3 linked regions of the Homo sapiens genome follow. The protein of the gene in region 3 interacts with the protein of the main gene of each other region in a biochemical or structural test. Each region holds a gene or a part of one and is shown on either strand. Other genes may lie near its edges.

Region 1 (7,027 bases), on a different chromosome or scaffold from region 3:
TAGTGTCCCAAAGTGCTGGGATTACAGGTGTGAGTCACCATGCCCCCCGGCCAAAGTGTACTTTTAAAAAAGAAAAGAGTCAGGCTCACTGGCCTGACTCTATAGTCCCAGCTACTCAGGAGGCTGAGGCAGGAGGATCACTTGAGCCAGGAGTTCCGGGCTGTAGTACGCTATAATCATGCCTGTGAATGGACTGCACTCCAGCCTGGGCAACACAGAAAGACCCCGTCTCAAAAAACAAACCAACTAACCAACCCTAAGCAAGTATTAAGTGTTGGTTCTCGGAAAATCTGAATCATCCAAGTTAGAAAGTAGAAAGCAAATGGAAAAGTAGTAATTGACCTAAAAGACTCAATAATGATCAATTTTAAACCGACAATGGGGAAAGCTGAGAAAGCTGATTTGGACCACAGAACCCCCATTGACTTAGGAATTGTCTGGGCCAAGTACATCTAGAAATAAAGGTAAAGATGGAGCTAAAAACAGAAGGAAGGGATGAAAGTCTATTTAACAAGTAGATTAACACTCTCTTCTATTCCCTCTTCTGTTCAACACAGCTGAAAATTAGAAGATAATGCTGCTGAGAAAGAAAAACGGGGTTTCTGTACTAGGGATTACAAGGTACAGCTGAGGGATAGAGTACAAACAATATTAAAAGCAAGGAGACTAAATGCATTTACTGTATGTTATGACTTCAAACCCTCTCTCCATTCACCTCCAAGAACACTGACAACCAAGATTCTCTCCAGCAGTGCACTGAGTAATTCTTCTTCAGGGAATCTGACCAGCAAAAAGACTTAAAGACCTAACATCAGAGACTCCCAAAAAGGAACTCAGCAAGATCATTCTGCAGTAAAGACCCACAAACCCACACAAGAGCATAAAAAACAAAAACAAAAACACAACTCTCAGTGCTCACCTCTTAAATAGAAGCAAATAGCCAAGAAACACTAGTTTTTTGAGGACCACATCAAACAGGAAATAGAGAAACTAAAACAAGCAGAGATGAAAAACAATTTACAAAAACTAAATATGCAGGAAGAAAAAAGTCATGTATCTTATTAACATCTTCAAAATGACAAGAAAAGGTAAAAATTGGGAATTAAAAAGATGCTACAGAAGGCTGGGTGTGGTGACTCCCACCTGTAATCCCAGCACTTTGGGAGGCCAAGGGGGCAGATCACTGAAGGTCAAGAGTTCGAGACCAGTCTGACAAACAGTGAAATCACGTCTCTACTAAAAATACAAAAATTAGCCAGGTATGGTGGCAGATGCCTGTAATCTCAGCTACTCAGGAGACTGAGGTATGAGAATCGTTTGAACCCGGGAGGTAGAGGTTGGAGTAAGCCAAGATTGCACCATTGCACTCCAGCCGGGGTGACAGGGCAAGATTCTGTCTCAAAAAAACAAAAACACAGATGCTACAGAAAGGAACATTCAGAAGATGAACAAAAACACTCTTTGAAATTAAAATGATAAGAACTGGCACGGTGGCTCATGCCTGTAATCCTAGCACTCTGGGAGACCGAGGCCAGGCAGATCGCATGAGCTCAGGAATTCGAGATGAGCCTGGGCAACATGGCAAAACGCCATCTCTACCAAAAATACAAAAAATAGCCGGCCTTGGTGGCGCATGCTTGTGGTTCCAGCTACTCAAGAGGCCGAGGTGGGAGGATCACTTGAGCCTGGAAGGCACAGGTTGCGGTGAGCTGAGATTGCACCACTGCACTCAAGCCTGGGTGACAGAGTAAGACTCCAGCTCAAAAAAAAGAAAAAAAAAATTAAAATGATAGCAGAAAAAAATAATAAAAAAATGGAAGAAAGTTGAGAAAAATCTTATGAGAATTAAAACAGAAGCTTAAGGAAATGAAAGAGACCAGATGAAATAAAATCAGGAAGTCTAATAAAAAGTCCAAGCCAGGTGAGGTGGTGCATGCCTGTAATTCCAGAGTCAGGAGCTTGAGGCGGGAATCACTTGAGGCCAGGAGTTGGAAAGCAGCCTGGCAACACAGCAAGACCTCGTTTGCTAAAAAAATTTTTTTTAATCAGCCGAGCGCAATGGCGAATGCCTCTAATCCCAACAGCTCCAGAGGCTGAGGTGGGAGGATCACTTGAGCCCAGGAGCTCGTGGCTGCAGTGAGCTATAATGGCACCCCTGTACTGTAGCCTGGGTGAGACAGCAAGGAGTTCAAGACTAACCTGGCCAACATGGCCACTCACTGCAACCTCTGCCTCCCGGGCTCAAGTGACTCTCCTGCCTCAGCCTCCTGAGATGGGATTACAGATGCACGCCATCATGCCCAGCTAATTTTTTGTATTTTAGTAGAGACAGGGTTTCACCATGTTGGCCAGGCTAGTCTCCAACTCCAGACCTCGCCGGGCACAGTGGCTCATGCCTGTAATCCCAGCACTTTGGGAGGCCGAGGCAGGCAGATCACGAGGTCAGGAGATCGAGACCATCCTGGCTAACACGGTGAAACCCCGTCTCTACTAAAAGTACAAAAAATTAGCCGGGCATGGTGGCGGGCGCCTGTAGTCCCAGCTACTCCGGAGGCTGAGGCAGGAGAATGGCATGAACCCGGGAGGCAGAGCTTGCAGTGAGCCGAGATTGCGCCACTGCACTCCAGCCTCGGTGACTGAGCGAGATTCCGTCTGAAAAAAAAACAAAAAAACAAAAAAACTCCAGACCTCAAGTGATCTGCCCACCTAGGCCTCCCAAAGTGCTGGGATTACAGGCGTGAGCCACCACGCCCAGCCTTAGCTCTACTTTTAAAAGCAGTGGCACTCATCATGCTATATTGTATTAAGTATTGTGTATTTCTTCCCTGATAAAACGTAAATTCCTTAAAAGTAAGCACTACCAAACCACCTGACACTGTAGCAATTTTCAATAAAGATTTGTTAAATTAAAACACTTTCTGAGCACTTCTCATGTGCCCAGCACTCTTCTAAATGTTTTGCATTATTTGACTAGTTTAAATGTCACAATAACTCTATGATAGGTCTATTATCTTTATGTTATAGATAAGGAAAAATGGGGCATAAAGACATGTTGAGTAATCTGCCAAAGGTCAGTAGCCACTGCTAAAACATGAAACCTAGACTCTTACTCTCCATCTCTACCAGTCCTCTAGTGCTCTAAATCATTAACTGTATGTACCACGCAGTTTTAAGGCTTCAGAACAAGATATGAAAAACTGGCAACATTATAACAGGAGATACAATTGACTTGATATTACCTAACCCAGCAGTTTACAAAGAGTGGTCTACTGACCCCTTAGGATCTCCCAAGACCTTTGGGGAGGTCCACAAACTCCTGGATGTCAAAACCATTTTCATAAGATTAAGATGTTATTTGAATTTTTCACTCTTACTCTCTTGAAATGTATTGTGGAGTTTCCCCGTGCCTATATGATGTGTAATATTACAGGATTGAATGCATAAGCAGCTATGCAAATCCAATTGTCCTCTATTAAGTCAGACATTAAAGAGATTTGCAAATATGTAAAACAATGTCACTCTCACTAAATATCTGTTTGGAAAATAGTTCTTTTTCATTTCAGAAATGATGTTAACATGAAGGCTGGGCACAGTGGCTCATGCCTGTAATCCCAGCACTTTGGGAGACCAAGGCAAGCAGGTCACTTGAGGCCAGGAGTTTGAGACCAGCCTGGCCAATATAGCAAAACCCTGTCTCTACTAAAAAGTCAAAAAATTAGCCAGGCATGGCGGCATGTACCTGTGGTCCCAGCTATTCAGGAGGCTGAGGCATGAGAATCGCGAACCCGGGAGGCACTCACTCCATCCTGGGCAACAGAGGGATGCAGTCAAAAAAAAAAAGGGTATTAACATGCAATGGGTTTATTATTATTATTATTATTTTTTTGAGATGGAGTTTTGCTCGTTGCCCAGGCTGGAGTGCAATGGCGTGATCTTGGCTCACTGCAACCTCCACCTCCCGGGTTCAAGGGACTCTCCTGCCTCAGCCTCCTGAGTAGCTGGCACTACCACTGGGACCGTCCACCACCATGCCAGGCTAATTTCTTTGTATTTTTAGTAGAGACGGGGTTTCACCATATTGGCCAGGTTGGTCTCAAACTTCTGGCCTCAAGTGATCCGCCCACCTCGGCCTCTCAAAATGCTGGGATTACAAGCATGAGCCACCACGCTCGGCCCTATTATTTTTTAACATATTAAATATTTTGAAATTTTCTTTTTCAATACAGTAAATGTTGATATATTTATTCATTTATTTTGAGATGGAGCCTCACTCTGTTGCCCAGGCTGGAGCGCAGTGGCACGATCTTGGCTCACTGCAACCTCCACCTCCCGAGTTCAAGCAATGCTCCTGCCTCAGCCTCCCGAAGAGCTGGGACTACAGGCACGCACCACCATGCCCGGCTAATTTTGTATTTTTAGTAGAAACGGGGTTTCGCCATGTTGCCCAGGCTGGTCTCGAACCCCTGACCTCAGGTGATCCACCCACTTCGGCCTCCCAAAGTGCTGGGATTATAGGCGTGAGCCACCGCACCCGGCCTAAATGTTGACATAAACTACATAAACAAAAGTCAGGCACAGTGGCATGTGCCTATAGTCCCAGCTACTAGGGAGGCTGAGGCAGGAGGAGAGCTTGAGACAAGGCTGCAGTTGGCCATGATAGCCCCTGTGAACAGTCACTGCATCCAAGAAGGGGGAAGGAAATGGGAAGAGGAAAGGAGGAAGGAAGGGAGAAAAGGAAAGGAAGGGGGAGGTGGAAAGGGGGAAGGAAGGGAGAAGGGGGAAGGAAGAGAAAGAAGAGGAGGAGGAGGAAGAAGAACAAGAGGAGGAGGAGAAGGAAGAGGAGGAGGAAGAAGAGGAGGAGGAGAAAGAAGAGGAGGAGGAGGAAGAAGAACAACAATAACAACTACATTAACAGAGCTCTTCAGGATCCTCAAAAATTTGTAAGAGCAGAAAGGGGTCTTGGGGAAAAAAAGTTTAAAAACCACTGATCTAGCCAATATAAAATGTTCAGTACTGGCCAGGCGTGGTGGCTCACACCTGTAATCCCAGCACTTTGGGAGGCTGAGGCCGGAGGATCTCGCCAGCTCAAAACTTTGAGACCAGCCTGGGCAACATGGTAAAATCCCATCTCTACAAAAAAATACAAAAATTAGCCAGGCGTGGTGGTGCGTGCCTGTTGTCCCAGCTACTTGGGAGGCTGAGGTGGGAGGATCACTTGAGCCTGGGAGGTGGAGGGTGCAGTGAGCTGAGATCACACCACTGCACTCCAGCCTGAGTGACAGAGGTAGACCCCGTCTCAAAAGAAAAACAACTGGTCAGTACTGCTAGTCTCTGACAATAAGACATTTTTTCCTTATCTAACATATTGCAATTTGATCAGCATTGATGGAAAAAAAGAAAAGGCAATATAAAGTGAAAAAAACAGTAGTAGGCTGAGTATGCGCTTCTCTCTGCCATTACATCTCCTAATTTATAATTGGTAACATGTATATATAGTGAAATCTTCTACTGTAAACCACTGAGTGACATTACTAAAACTGCCTCTGCATCTCAAGACAATAGCCAGAGGTAGTAACAAAACAGACTCCTCAAGGAAACTTCCAATTGTGTATTTCAACATTCCTTTATTTATTTATTTAGAGACAAAGTCTCGCTCTGAGGCCCAGGCTGGAGTGCAGTGGGGCAATCTCAGTTCACTGCAACCTCCACCTCCTGGGTTGCAGTTTTCCTGCCTCAGCCTCCTGAGTAGCTGGGATTACAGGCACACGCCACCACGCCCAGCTAGTTTTTGGATTTTTAGTAGAGATGGGATTTTGCCATGTTGGCCAGGCTGGTCTTGAACTCCTGACCTCAGGTGATTTGCCTGCCTCGGACTCCTAAAGTGCTGGGATTACAGGCGTGAGCCACCACGCCCAGCCAAACATTCCTTTATTAAACCGTAAGAATTTATCTAAGGTTAAGATTGATGTCATTAACTCAATCTGCTTCATGTACTGACACAATTCATTTTCACTATAGAGCGTAGTATCTTAAATATACATACATATATATATATATATATATATATATATATATTTTTTTTTTTTTTTTTTTTTTTTTTTTTCTTGAGACAGAGTCTCACTCTGTCACCCAGGCTGCAGTGCAATGGCATGATCTCAGCTCACTGCACCCTCCGCCTCTCAGGTTCAAGCGATTCTCCTGCCTCAGCCTCCTGAGTAGCTGGGATTACAGGCTCCCACCCGCCATCATACCTGGATAATTTTTGTATTTTTGTAGAGACCGGGCCATGGGGTGGGGGGGAGCCGGGGACTCCACCATGTTAGCCAGGCTGGTCTTGAACTGCTGACCTCAGATGATTCACCTATCTCAGCCTCCCAAAGTGCTGGGATTACAGGCATGAACCACCGCACCCAGCCTAGTATCTTAAATTTTTGATAAGCCAAATAAAACCTAATTTCAAATCAGTTCCATGAGCACATCATTGGTATAATTTGAATACTTTTCATGCGTTACATTAATAGCAAATAATTTAACAACTTTAATAAAGGAAGACGAATTTTGCTCAACTCAAAAAAAAGTACAAAATTCAGGTCAGTCCTATTTTTTGAATGAAATGGTTGGGCCTCTAAACGATTGGTTTCTCTACCCCCTTAAGTATCTGATATATTCCTGTATACAATCAAATGATGTAAGTTTTAAGTGTTATTGTTAAACTATCAATTGCGTAACCATGTCAAAGAGTGTAACATAGGCTACTAGCTTTCGTTACTACTAGATTCAGCCATCATTCATTTACCCAACATGTCTGAACAGCTACTATGAGCCTGGCTCTACGCTAGGCAATGGGGACACACTGAACAAAAAAGAATAGTTTTTATCTTCATGGGAGTTGCATTCTTCTGTGGGAAATAAAAACAAACACATAAAAAATAAGATAATTGTAAATGTGGTAAATGCTATTAAGAAGAAACAAGGCTTTGCCATAGATTACAGTCTTTGAAAGCTGAATTGTGGAATTCTAACAGAC
Region 2 (7,027 bases), on a different chromosome or scaffold from region 3:
CATGCCTTTTGAGACCCAACTTGCCCATATGCCGAAATGACATTATTTTACATTCACTAAATTAACTTTCTTGGTGTAAGAAAGTCTGTCCACTTTCTTAAGTGGATTGCATTTGGTAAATTAACTTTTTTTGGGGTGAGAAAGTGGACAAACTTTGTCTTTGTCCTTTCCTTGTTCCTTAACTGCTAAACTTACCTTCACCTGACAGCTTGCTGACTATTATAAAATCTGCAAACCTTTTGCTTTGCTTTAAAATTACTTTAACCTGCTACTAACTAAAGGTGCCTAGAGCACAACACTCTGTGAACAAATGTTTCCAGAACAAGACATGATCACTACCCACAAGTCTTAACTTGTTGTCTTTCATATTAACACCCCATTCCAATTTTCCAAGCCAATATGCTTGTACCTCTAAATATATTTACCTTATTTATTTATTTATTTATTTATTTTAGAGATAGGATCTCGTTCTGTTGCCCAGGCTGCAGGGCGGTGGCACAGTCATAGCTCACTGCAGCCTCAAACTCCTGGGCCCAAGTGATCCTCCTGCCTCAGTCTCCAGAGTAGCTGGGACTACAGGTGCACACCGCCATGCCCATATATTCACCTTAATAAAACAAATGTTTCTCACCTTGCTCTCAAACTAACAACAAATATAAAACCTGGTCTAATGTCTCTAGTGTCTCCAAGTGTAATTTTCAGGAGAAAGTCCTGCTTTCTCTGCCACAGTCAACACTTAAATTAACTGGAGCAAAATGCATAGCTATTTTGCTGGGTTCCACCCCAATCCAGACATTTTTCTGCTGAGCCTGCAGCTCCACCTCTCTTTGCCCTCAGGAAAAGTTAAAATACTTTTAAAGAGATATTCGAGTTAAGTAATTAAAATCCACAAACCAGCTGGCCATGGTGGCACATACCTGTAATCCCAGCACTTTGGGAAGCCAAGGCGGGAGGACCACTTGAGCCCAGGAGTTCAAGACCAGCCTGGACAATACAGCGAGACCTCATCTCTAAAAATAAAAAAATAATAATAATCTACAAACCAAAACTTGGGTTCACCACAATCCAGAATCCTATATGCTAGGCTCATAACCAAATCCAGCCCAGATCACTTGTTCCTATGCCAATCCTCCTCATTCCGGCAAACAGAACTTGGGGATGACTCTTGGTAACGCTGTCTTCCTCATTCCCCATCTCCTTCCAGTGTTATTGGTTCTTCTGGAAGATTTCTGAAATCCAGCTCCACTTCCTCCACCCTCGTCCAAGCCACTTCTCTCCTGGATTATTACAATCGCATGCCAACTGATTGAGACATGCGGAGACTTTCCTCCTTTTAAGTGTGATCTTTTTTTGTAAATGTAAATTGGACACTCTGCACTCCTGCTTTAAAAGCTTGAGGGGCTTCCAATTGTTTCAGAGTATCACCCTTACTCCCATGGCAAGGCCCTGCTGAGTCTCTAACCACAACTTCCCACAGCACTCCTTGCTCTTCCTTAAAAGCACCACGACATTTCCTGCCTTGGGACTTGGCTCCTGCGGTTTGCTCTGCCTGATAGCTCTTTGCCCACTGGCCTTTTCTCGTTTTTCAGGTCCAGCTTAAAATCATTTCCCCGGGGAGGCCTTCCTCACCCAATCTAAAGCCACTCCCTCGCCCCATAGTAACCTCTCACAGTCCACTCCTTCGCCGCGCAGCACCAATTACCAAGAGTCACCAGACACCGATCTGACTGTGCCCACAGCTGTCTCCCCGACTCCACTGTCACTGCGCCTTGTCACCGTGCTGTCCCCAGGGTCTAGCATGGCACCTACCCATAAAAGAGTACAGTATATATTTGTGAATAAACGAATCAAGAGTAAGTAGGCTTGTCTAATTTGCTGTTCTTCAACCTTAAATTCCCAGAGAAAAGTGATTACATTTCACTTTATATCATGAGATGAGGACGGAGATCCAAATTCAAAGCCCCGAATTCAGCACCATTCCATTTATTAGTCTCAGCTTCATGGGTAATACAAAAGACAAGCTCCCAAAGAACTTGCAATCTCCCTAGAAGAACAGGCACATACCTAAACGCTTGGAGAATCAATTAAAGATAAAATATGTTTAAGTGTCAAAATGGCAGAACAAACCAAAAGTAACCTCAAGTTTTTACTTTTCTTCCTTGGGTGTAAGAACCCAAGGAAAAAAAAATAAACAAACCCTGGGTAGAAATGCATGGAAGAGAATTAGCCACATGCAGGCAGACAAAGTAGGTCTAAAAATGTGATTTAGAAAAGGGTGCCTGGAGGAATACCAATCAGACGACAATATATTATATGAGGAGGACAAACTGCACAGACCACCCCAAACAGAGCAGCACCTAAATCCTTTACAGGGTAGCTTCAGTCTTTAAAAAGATAACATATTTTTGTAAGCAGTCTCCAGTTAGACACTGTATTTGCCAATGTTCAGAAAACACAGTTGTCCCATTTCTGGTTTATGAACACTATGGGACTGTAAAAGAGAAACATTCATCTCTTCATCCGAGTCAATGTGAATTCATTTTGTTTAAACACACCTTTTTAAAGGGCTTTTATTTTCACAGCTCCTTAACTTTTTATTGCATTTTTTCTCCAGGCATAGTCGACTGTGGAACATTGCTTTGGGGAGCCTAGGTGTCAGCAATATGTAGTTCTATTTTAAGCTCAGGGAGGAGCACATGTAATGTAAGTAGGAACAGGGAAAAGAAAAATAAATGAAAAGTCTGCTGCAGTATATTTAGGTGTACTTGGAATTGTGTTTTAAATTAACCTGCAATTAGGCTACAGAACTCCATTCTGAAGAAATTCACATGAAGGAGAAAAGAGGCAAAAGATCCAGTGCTTACACATGCAGATAGACAGGCGGACAGATGGACAGATGGACAGACAGACGGATGGCTAGATAGACAGATGACTAGACAGACAGATGTACAGATGAATAGATAGATAGACGGACAGATGGATAGACAGATGGACAGCTAGAAAGATGGATATACACACAGATGGACAGAAGGACAGACAGAGACAGACAGGCAGATGGACAGATAGACAGCCAAGTGGACAGATGGACAGACAGATGGAGGGAAAGATGGATAGACAGACAGATGGATAGCCAGACAGATGGACAGACTGAGGTTTTGCCATGGCTGTGTATTTACAAGCTTTCTTTGTCAAGGCAGTTACAACCAAAGTATAATAAAACAGAAACAAACAATTGTTTATGTGACATGAAAGATGAGGTGATATGGGTATTTGATGGCTTATATAGGAATTAATTACTTTGAAACCATAATTACCCATGTTTGAGCAAAGCACTTGTTTTTTCATAAAGTAGACCACCAAGATCTGAGGAATTAACCTGTTCAAAGTCCCTGTCACACACAGGAAGGGATTTATACTGGATAAATGTCTTTTAAGTTATTACTACAAGCCATGTGTGGTGGCTCACACCTGTAATCCTGGCACTTTGGGAGGCCGATGGGGGAAGATTGCTTGAGCTCAGGAGATTGAGACCAGCCTAGGCAACATGGCGAGACCTTGATTCTACTAAAAATCCAAAAATTTAGCTGAGTGTGGTGGTGCACACCTATAGTCCCAGCTACCCAGGTGGCTGAGGTCGGAGGATTGCTTGAGCCCAGGAGGTGGAGGCTGCAGCGAGCTATGATTGCACTACTGCACTCCAGCCTGAGCAACAAAGACTCTGTCTCAGAAAAAAAAAGAAAAAAGATATTAGTACAGTACTTCCTACTCAGGCTTCTTCTCTTTCAGGTCCTTATTTGATATTTTTAAATTTTAACAATGACTTTCATAAACTTCAGAAAGCTTCCCAGCTGGTGCAGAGATCTCAAGCTCAAGTTCAGGTCATACAAGGCACCAGGCTCCCCTGGCTGACCACTGATATCTGTGCTGGGGGTCTTCCAAGGCCAGGGAGCTAAGGAGGAGGAGGGGGCTCTGCGGAAGACGCGGGGCTGTAAGGATGGAAGGTGCTAAGGCAATCGTCCTCAGGAGCTATCTAGCTTCATTCATTAAAACCACCTGTAAAAACAAAATGTTTCATAGCTGAGCATAGCAGAAGAGCCTAACGCCACCAGAAGAGAATGAGTTTAATCTGAGGAAATGTGAGGCTAATGTAATGAGTTCGAGCCCAAACTTAGATGTCACCCAGAGTGACACAACACCAGAGAGCATCTGCACCCACTGACCATGATGGAGAAGGGAGAGGAATGTGGGGACATGGGGTTTCCCACATGAAATTCCAGCCCCAGCCTGCTAGAGTTCAGCCATTCAGGGCAAGGAGCCTGAAACCATTCTGTTGAGAGTAAGAAATCAAAGGAGGAAAGAAAGGGAAGGTGGAAAGAAGGGAAGAGAGTGAAGACCCCAGTGAAGGAAAGGGCCAGCAGCTGGGGAGGGGAGGCTCCAAGCCATTCTTTTGCACATTTCTTTTGCATATCTCTGCATAGTGTAGGTAAGACAGGTCAGAATTCCCCATCTCCAATGAATTCTCCATCAAGCCAACATAAACAAAAGATTCCCTCCTGTGGGTTCTTGGAGTCTAAAGTAATGCACTCAAACCAGTTAAACAGAAATCAAAACTGTTCTGGGAAGCCACGGCTTCTCTGACTTTGAGAGCTCTGCCAAAAACGATCTCAGGCAGGAAAGAGATCAAACCATCAGTTTCCCTTCTGGAGTTGTCTGGAGCTAAGATATTTGAGGACAATTACTGTTTTGGGGTTCAACTCCTCCTAAGGTGGCTATTCCAGGAACTTCAGGGCCAGTATTTCATCAAACACCTGTACTTCTCCCAACGTCCCTGATAATGCTCCGGTCGAACTTTCCTGAGGGTGTCTCAGAGCAGTTTTCCCAGATGGCTGTCAGCAGGGACTTCTCTGGCAGAATCCGGAACAGAATGACACAACCAGAGAACTTATGAAGGTTAAATCTGTTGAGCTGGAAGCCTCACAGCTGCAGATAGATGTGTTGGCAGAGCCATTAGCTGGGAACCAGCTCTGGTTGATAAGGTTATTCCCGGGGAGCCGGCATACAGTGAGCATAACGGGACCCAGCACTGGGACCAGGAAGGAGGCTGTCACCCTCCCTAATTAGCTCACCAGACACATGGGGTACCTGTACACGCCAACCCTGTATCCAATTCCCAATTTCAGGTCAAACAGGATGGAGACATTACTTTTTGTAGGAGATGATCAGGCAAAAAAAGTTACTGGAAGGTTCCCTCAGTTTACCTAGAGTCATCCCATCTAATGGGTGACCTTGAGTTCTATACCTTGTCTATTTTCTCTCTCCTCCTAACATAAAATGCTACAGAATGCATAATTTTCAATTAAAATAAATTTTATTTTTGCAACAGGATTACTTCATTTTAATTTACAGAACTCAGAGTGAACAGGTTCCAGTACAGAATCATGGAAATCTAGAATCGAGAGGATAATAGAAGTGGGTATTAACAACTGCATAGCTGTAGATTTTGTATCCATGGCATCCGATAAATTCACACAGAGGAAAAGTTCACTTCAGAGTTCTAAAATGTTATCCTTTGACTCCCAGAAGCATAAAAATGCAAGTTGGGCTGAAAACCCAATTTCAGGTACTTACTGATTCCTTGAAAGAGCTCTTCGATATTAATAGCATTTTTTGCACTTGTCTCAACCACGATGGCACCTATGGATTCAGCGTATTCCTTAGCATCCTTCAGGGGAACCTCCCTGGAAAAGAGGTCAAATGTAGACAGGAAATGAATGTTTGTTTGTAAAATACAAATCACCCAAAAGACCAGACAGCTTGTGCGGCAACAGCTCCTTTATCTTCTTGTAGAATAATAATTCAATCACTCAGCAAGAATGGACACCTAGTATGAGTGAGACTTTTTAAAGTTTAAAACCCAGTCTCTGGCATTCATGAAGAGAAGATATGCATATATAAAATAGTGTTCCTGCTCCCACAGAAGAATTCCAGAACAGCAGGGAAAACCATGACAAATATGGCAGTACACATTTCAGCTTTCAGAGCTACAGCTGATTTCAACTTTTTTCCCCATTACATGACTCAATATTAAAAAACACCAAACCTCTGTTAGTATGTTTGTGCACACATGCTTTTGTGAAACTTTTTACATATTATCTTTCACAAATCAGAGAAAATATGCAATGTGCTGTGACAGTTTGGAAACGAGCATGGTTATACCGACCATGGCTACAATACAGGATGGCATATCTGGACTTTCATCTGTAAAAGGATGTTCTCGCAAAGGTTTTAGGGCATGAACTCTATTTAAATGAACAATTAAAAAAATCTCCTCGGGAGGCTGAGGCAGGAGAATGGCGTGAACCCAGGAAGCAGAGCTTGCAGTGAGCCGAGATTACACCACTGCACTCCAGCCTGGGTGACAGAGCAAGACTCCGTCTCAAACAAAACAAAACAAAACAAAACAAAACAAAACAAAACAAAACAAAACTCACCTGAACGCACCTGATTTCATCTGATCTTGGAAGCTAGGCAGGGTCAGGCCTGGCTAGTACTTGGATGGGGTCTACGGCCATACCACCCTAAAAAAACCTACTGACCTCTTTTCAATGTGAAAATGCTGTGGTGGATCCAAAGATAAAAAAGATGCAGTTCCTATTCTCCAGCAGCTGCTGCATGCCAGTCCCTCTCCCAGGGGCCAGAGAAAACACAGGTTCTGCCTTCTGGCACCTGTGCTTTAGAACACAGACAAACAGGGCTCATCCAGGGGCACTCTAATCCACAACACTGCGACATAAAGTGCTTCAGGAGCAGAGGGGCAGGAAGTGATGTGTTCTGTTCAATAGACCCCAGGAAGATGCCCAGAGGTGGTCACCTTAAGTGTGGCCATGAAGGCTAGGCAAATGCAGGTCAGACTCTGGGATGGGACAGCCTGAGCAGAGGCCCAGAGACAGGAGAGTGCACACATTCCCGGAGATTATTAAAAGTTGATTCTGCACCCAGCACTGCTGGGGATGTTATGGCGGATTTG
Region 3 (6,910 bases):
TTACCCACTAAATTACAATAAAAGAGTAGGGCTAAGAATAAGCATAAAAATTCTGAGTGTAATTATTCATTTCAGAATATAAAGATTAGAAATAATTGGTATACAGCAAAACAATGGAATTCAGAATTTGGTAGTTGTCAAACAGAAAAGAGTGACAAATCCTGAATGCCAACTCTGCCTTATCCCTAGGAAACACTTTGATTTGTTCAAGGAAGGTTAAAGGTCAAACAGGTTTTGTCATAATCTATTATCCTTGAAAAATATGAATCTTAAGTGTTTGATTCCCTGTTTCCAAAAAAACCCTGATTTTTAATTGTAATTTTGGTCAAGCAAATTTCCTATGGTTGACAGTAGGAACCACAGACCTAAAGATTTAAGTCAGGCTTCAAGTTCTAGGATAAAAAAGCCAAAAGTAAAAAGTTCTGGACACTCGAGTCAGAAAAGACACCAGAGAGACAAGAATATGAGGATTACAGATGGTATTATGGTATTAGGTGTCTCCAGCAAATGCTTTCAAGAGAAACTTCTCAGTGTAATTCTGAGACATGTTACATAGGATCAGATCTCAGGTATTCTACTCCCTAATTGCAAACAAGTGACTTAACCTGTCTGTGCTTCAATTTCTGTATCTATAAAAGGGGGATGATGATATTACTATCTTATAGTAACCCTCACATGTGGATTAAATGAACTAACTAATGAAAAGGGCTTAGAACAGTACCTGGCACATAAGCAGCCATTGAATGTTAGTTATATAGCAACAACTATATTAGTTGTTAGTTATATGTTAGTTTATATATAAACTATAGTTTATATGTATTTAAAACTATAGTTTATATATATTTAAAACTATTTACATAGTTTATATATAAACTGCTAATATAGCAACAACTATATTAGTTGTTAGTTATATAGTTGTTATATAGTGTTACCTATATATTAATGTTAGTTATATAGCAGCCCCATACCCCCACATATACCCCCAACTATACCCCCATAACTTACACAGAATTGGAACACACGACTTCCTTATTAGCTCAACAGAGTTCCAAATCTACTAATCCGAGGGACTAGATTCTGGGCTGTGGTCATCTCAACAATGTAGCTACTCTATTCAATCTTCATGATTTTGTTTTTACATTAGAGGAAACCAAGGCACACAAGTTTTACTGGTTTGCCCAAGGGTCACCTCTCTGTAACCCACTCTAGCCTTTGGAAATGTTAGTGGTGTTCCACTTTTCTGCTGAATTTTGTTTTATTAAATTCTGAATTTAGTTTAGTTTCATTAAACTAGTCTTCCAGGGTTTGATGAAATCCGGGTTTGATGAACTTCCCAGTAGAGCTGACTAAGCAGGACCTATGAAAGAGCTACTTCACAGAATTAGCTGACATCCAGTTAGAGTGGCACCAATAGTCTCAGAGAAGAGCAGGTTGGGCCAGTGGGAATTTCTTCCGTGTAAATCTGACAGCATAGATACAGAGGATCTAAAAGTGGGGACTGAGAAAATTGGTTTTAGGCAGAAGCCAATGTTGGGAGATGGCAAGATTTAAGTGAACAATTTTTAAACTGGGAAGGAATATGATGTCAAGAAGCCAATGAATATCCAAGTGAGGTGTCTTGGGCACACAGGGATAGGGGCCTATGATACGTAATGGTCACCATGGATATTTTTGAGATAAGATATTAGTGACAATAGAGTGAGGTTAGCAGCTATGGTGATAGCTTATCAAAATAATCTTTTGATCAATCAGTCAACAGTATTTACGGAGCTCCTATGGCAGAGAGGAAGGTGACACACTGATAAAATACTGTCATTTCTATCTCTACACATTTCATTACCTTTTCTTTCTAACAGTAAAGTCAGTAAGTGAGGCAGTTTCTGGCCTACACTAAACCATTACTGAATTAATGAATATGCCTTCAACCCAGTGGGATAAGGGGACGGGGAGACTGGAGAAACCAGCTGAATAGGGTTAAGACAAGTCTGTAACGTTAACAATGAAGCATTTCCATAGCACTTTTACTTTTTGGAAGCCACTCTCGCATTTATTTTTCCCCCAGTTATAATTCCAAAGGCTGTAAGGTAAGGCAGTTAATGGTTTTATTAAACTGAAGAGTTAACTTTGGCCCAGAAAGCTTTATTGACTTGCCCAACGTTACACAACACATGTCAGTTGCAGGGGCAGGAACTAAGAACCCAGGCTTCCTGCTTCCCCGCCCATTCAGTCCTTCCACTGAGCCACACTGCCAAGCACAATCCAGAGGCTTGGAAGTTGGGGACAAAGCCCCGAGGTTAGAGAGCACTGGCACTTCACACCTGGACCTGAACCTGTTGCCCGCGTGGCTTCAGTAGGAGGACAGTGGGTGACCCGTCGCGGTTTGGGGTTGGGAGGTAATGGCAGGCTCCCCTCCTCTGTGGGAATCAGGTGGTTACTTACTCATATTGCCCGTTCCTCTGGGCTAGGGTCAGGGCGCAGGGCTCCCGGAGAGGACCCTTCATCTCCATACCCTCGACAGTATGCGGGCGCTAGTCAAGGGTCTCCTTCGGAAGCGCGGTGGGGAGGAGTGGTGCACTGCGGGGCGAAGGGGGTCTTCCACCCCCCCCCCACCGCCGCCCTCCCCCGCCCCGCCCCGCCCTGCTTCGTCTCCCGCGCCGGCCCCCTCCCCCTCTCTGCTCGGCCTCTGGGCCACCCGGTTGCCCCGCCCCACCGTGTTCCGCAGGGCCCCCGACCCCCACCCCCGGCCCTGCGCGGCCTCCCCTCTCCCTTCTCTCCGGCGGATACGGCAAGCGGCTGGGCTCCGACCGGGAGCGGCGGCTCCATCCAGGCGGCCTCCGGGCTCAGCAGGACAGCGGACTGCGGGCCGATCCGACGACACTGGCTCCCGCGTCCCCACACCCACCCACCTCGGCTGCGTGTCGTTTGAGGAACAGCTCCGCGCCGGGCGCCGGGCGCCGGGAGCCGGGAGCGGGGAGCTGGGAGCTGAGAATCTGACCCAAGAGAGAGCGGCGCCTCGCGCCCCCGCCAGTTTTCCAGGCCGCCGCAGATTCCGTCCCCTGCGGTCAAACTGCGGAACTGCAGCGAGAGACCTGACGGACTGGGGGCGTCTCTACCAGGTCCAGCAAGGAATGGGTTTTAAATGCCACCTGTGACATCAAAATTGTTCTGAGGACTTTGAAGGCCACAGAAACAAAACACAGTCATACCTATGGGAGATCTCAAACCTGTTGTGTCAATACGACCCACATCATTCAGTAAAAAAATACATATATATATATATATATATTTCTTAAGGTTATAATGTCCCGTGTTGGTTATCCTACCATTTCCTTTCCTCTTCTTTCTTCCACGCCCTAAATCGGAGAATTCCCCAAAGCCCAGACCTTTGCTCCTCCTCTGCGTCCCCTCCAGTTCACCTCTAACTAGACAATGTCCAAATATATATCCCTGGCCCAGACCTCTTACCTAATAGAGTCCATTGTTAACACATCACTGCGTCACAAAACTAACTCATTATCATTTCACTGGAAAGCCATATATCGTCTTCCCCCTCCTCATCTCTATATCCAATCAGTCAACACACCCTGTTAATATTTTACGTGGAATTACTTTTAGATTCCTTATTTTCTCTCCATTCACACTGCCATAACTTTATTGTAAGCCCTTGTGATAGCCTATCTGGGTTATTGCACTTTTCTTTAAATAAATCCTGTTGGGTTTACTCTTTCCTTTGACATGTTTACTCTGTTGACAGCCATAAAAATATTTTTCCCAAAGTAATTTTTCGATCGTGTTATTCATTTGCTCCAGAATCTATAATACACTAGATATCAAGAGTGACTGTAAATCTGTAGTAATTAAAAGTATGCTGTGGAGATAGACAATCAATGAAACACAATATAAACCCCTCAAACAGACCACACATATACGGAAGGTTGATATGCAGCGTGTGGGACATTTCAAATCAGTGGGGAAAGAATGGATTATCCACTAAGTGGTACTAGGACTACTGCTTATCCATATGGAAAATTATAAAAATTAGACCCCTACCTCAAACCATGGAAGAAAAATCAGTTCCAGGTGGATTAAAGATCTAAATGTGAAAAGCAAAACTTTATAACTTTCAGAAAAAAAAATTGAGTATGAGCTTGGAATATGGAATGAGAATAAGACATTTAGCTACATGAAATTTCAAAATGTATGTACTTTAAGACAATATAAACAAGTTAAAAGACAAACTGGCCTGCACAGTGGCTCATGCCTGTAATCCCAGCACTTTGGGAGGCCGAGGTGGTAGGATCACTTGAGCCCAGGAGTTCAAGACCAGCCTGGGAAACGTGGCAAAACCCTGTCTCTACAAAAACTATAAAAATTAGCTGGATGTGGTGGCAAGTGCTTGCAGTCCCAGCTACTCAGGAGGCTGAGGTGGGAGCATCCCCTTGAGCCAGCGAGGTCACATCTACAGTGAGCTGTGATGGCGCCACTGCACTCCAGCCTGGGTGACAGAGCAAGACCTTGTCTCAAAAAAAAAAAAAAAAAAAAAAGACAAGCTGTCATCACCTTTCGGACATCTCCCACCATTTCCCACCACTCTCCCTAACTAGCTTTGCTTAGTCACACTGACTCCTTGTTGTTGCTAGGACTTGCCAGGCACACTCTTACCTCAGGGCCTTTACACTTGCTGTTCACTCTGCATGCACTCTCACCTCCTTCAGGTCTTTGCTCAAATGTCACTTTCTCACTGAAGCCTTCCTAGACCACTTTATTGAAAATTGTAATTCAACAATCCCCTTCTCCATCACCACACATACATGTTCCCTATCCCTCTTCCCTGCTTATGTATCACTATCTACCACTTCTGTTTTATTTATCAATATTATTGGTCATTTACCTTCACCCGCTAGAATGTTGAGTTCCATGAGTGCAAGGATTTTGTCTGTTTTGATCATAGCTGCATTCTCAGTGCCTAGAACCATTCTTGGAGCCAAGTAGGTGCTAGAAAAATATTGATTAAATGAATGAATGACTTGGTATCCAGGATATATAAGAACTCCTATAAATAAGAAAGAAACCTAATAGAAAAATTGACAAAATATCTGAGTAAGTAATTCATAGTCAAGGAAACCCAGATGGCCAATAAAGACATGAAAAGATGCCTAACTTTATTACTATTCAGGGAAATTGAAAAGTAAAACCACGAGATACCATTTCACAACCATCGGTTTTGTGAAAATTTAAAAAGTCAGACAACCCCAAGTGTTGTTGAAGTTCTAGCAGTGGAACTCTGATTTACGGCTAGAAGGAGTTTAAGTTGGTAGAACTGCTATGAAGAACAATTTGACGATGTCTAATAAAGGCAATACCCCTCAATCTAGAAATTCTATTTCTAGATATAGACACTGGCAAAACTCTACCTTTTATATGCACAAAGAGACATATAAAAGAATGTTCATTGCAGTATTATTTGTAATCTCAAAAATGGAAGCCAAGTAAATGTCAGCAGGTGAATGAATAAATAATGGTGTTCTCGATGAATGAATTTGAGCTATGGGTAGTAACAGCTAAATTTCAAAAATATAATGTTGAGTGAAAAGCAAATTGCAAAACATGTACAGTATACTGTGTATATAAAGTCTGAAAATATCATCTATTGCTTATGGCTACATAGATGAGTAGTACTGTAATAGTATATAAAACATGAAAGGGCATGATCACCAAATTTAAGAGAGGGAGAGGATTGACACTCGGGGGAGGCATACAGAGAATATCAAATATATCTAATATTTATTTCTCAAAACAGAATCTGAAAAGTGATGTTGCAAGATTTGATAGAACTGGGTGGTGGGTACATATATTGGTTCTGTTATTCCATGTACTTTCCTGCACTGAAAATCATTTGCAGTCAATGAAAACGAAAGATAAAGAAGGAATATGCAGGGGAGGTTAGCAGTATCAAATGCTGAAAATAGGACAAGAAAATGAGGGCCAAAGAGACTTTCTTTGGACGTGTCAAGGAGTTCACTGGAGACCAATAATTGTTTGGTTTCAATAAGTGGTGAGGATAGAAACAAGATTATGGGGAATTGAGGAGGAACTGTATTGTGAGAAAACGGAGACAAGAGACCACAGATTGAAGAGGTTTGGAAATAAAAAGGAACGAAGTACAATTTTAATTAAATTAGTTAGAAGGGTCAAACAGAGGTTGTTGACAAAGCCTGAAGCCACTTTAAAGCAAAGAGGAAGGAACCAACAAAGAGGGGGCCTTTTTTTTTTTTTTTTTTTTGAGACGGAGTCTCGCTCTGTCGCCCAGGTCGGACTGCGGACTGCAGTAGCGCAATCTCGGCTCACTGCAAGCTCCACTTCCTGGGTTCACGCCATTCTCCTGCCTCAGCCTCCCGAGTAGCTGGGACTACAGGCGCCCGCCACCGCGCCCGGCTAATTTTTTGTATTTTTAGTAGAGACGGGGTTTCACCTTGTTAGCCAGGATGGTCTCGATCTCCTGACCTCATGATCCACCCGCCTCGGCCTCCCAAAGTGCTGGGATTACAGGCGTGAGCCACCGCGCCCGGCCAGAGGGGGCCTTTTAAGATGCTAGAAGAGAGAGGCAGTAAGGTTGCAAGCAAAATCCCTCAGTAATTGAGAGGGACAAAGATCCAAGATGTAGATGGCGGAATCGGCCTTAGGGAAAAGGCGAGATACTTCTTCCTCCAACTTTACAGTATCCTCAGCACCTAAACAGTGCATTGCACATAGTGGGCACTCAATAAATATTTGTTAAGTGAAGAATAAGAGGTTGTGTGGAAATTAAAATATATTGAGGTAAGGACACTAAAAACTGAGGTCTCTCACAGGGGAAATGATGGTTGCATATAAGTGGCTTCCAATGCAAAGAGTTAAAAGACAATTGAAT

The links. The genes of interacting proteins can lie anywhere in the genome.
Region 1: the proteins of OCRL (region 3) and RAB6A form a complex in vitro, tested with the Homo sapiens proteins (2 studies listed by BioGRID and IntAct, with this or other methods).
Region 2: the proteins of OCRL (region 3) and RAB31 form a complex in vitro, tested with the Homo sapiens proteins (2 studies listed by BioGRID and IntAct, with this or other methods).

The regions. Positions count from the first base shown.
Region 1 is NC_000011.10:73,751,056-73,758,082, forward strand, and holds part of RAB6A (ras-related protein Rab-6A), read right to left. Parts: intron 1-7,027. UniProt on the Homo sapiens protein: The small GTPases Rab are key regulators of intracellular membrane trafficking, from the formation of transport vesicles to their fusion with membranes.
Region 2 is NC_000018.10:9,844,293-9,851,319, reverse strand, and holds part of RAB31 (ras-related protein Rab-31), read right to left. Parts: intron 5,739-7,027; coding exon 5,629-5,738; intron 1-5,628. UniProt on the Homo sapiens protein: The small GTPases Rab are key regulators of intracellular membrane trafficking, from the formation of transport vesicles to their fusion with membranes.
Region 3 is NC_000023.11:129,536,353-129,543,262, reverse strand, and holds the start of OCRL (inositol polyphosphate 5-phosphatase OCRL), read right to left. Parts: upstream 3,005-6,910; 5' UTR 2,824-3,004; coding exon 2,785-2,823; intron 2,523-2,784; coding exon of another isoform or gene 2,520-2,522; coding exon 2,440-2,519; intron 1-2,439. UniProt on the Homo sapiens protein: Catalyzes the hydrolysis of the 5-position phosphate of phosphatidylinositol 4,5-bisphosphate (PtdIns(4,5)P2) and phosphatidylinositol-3,4,5-bisphosphate (PtdIns(3,4,5)P3), with the greatest catalytic activity towards PtdIns(4,5)P2.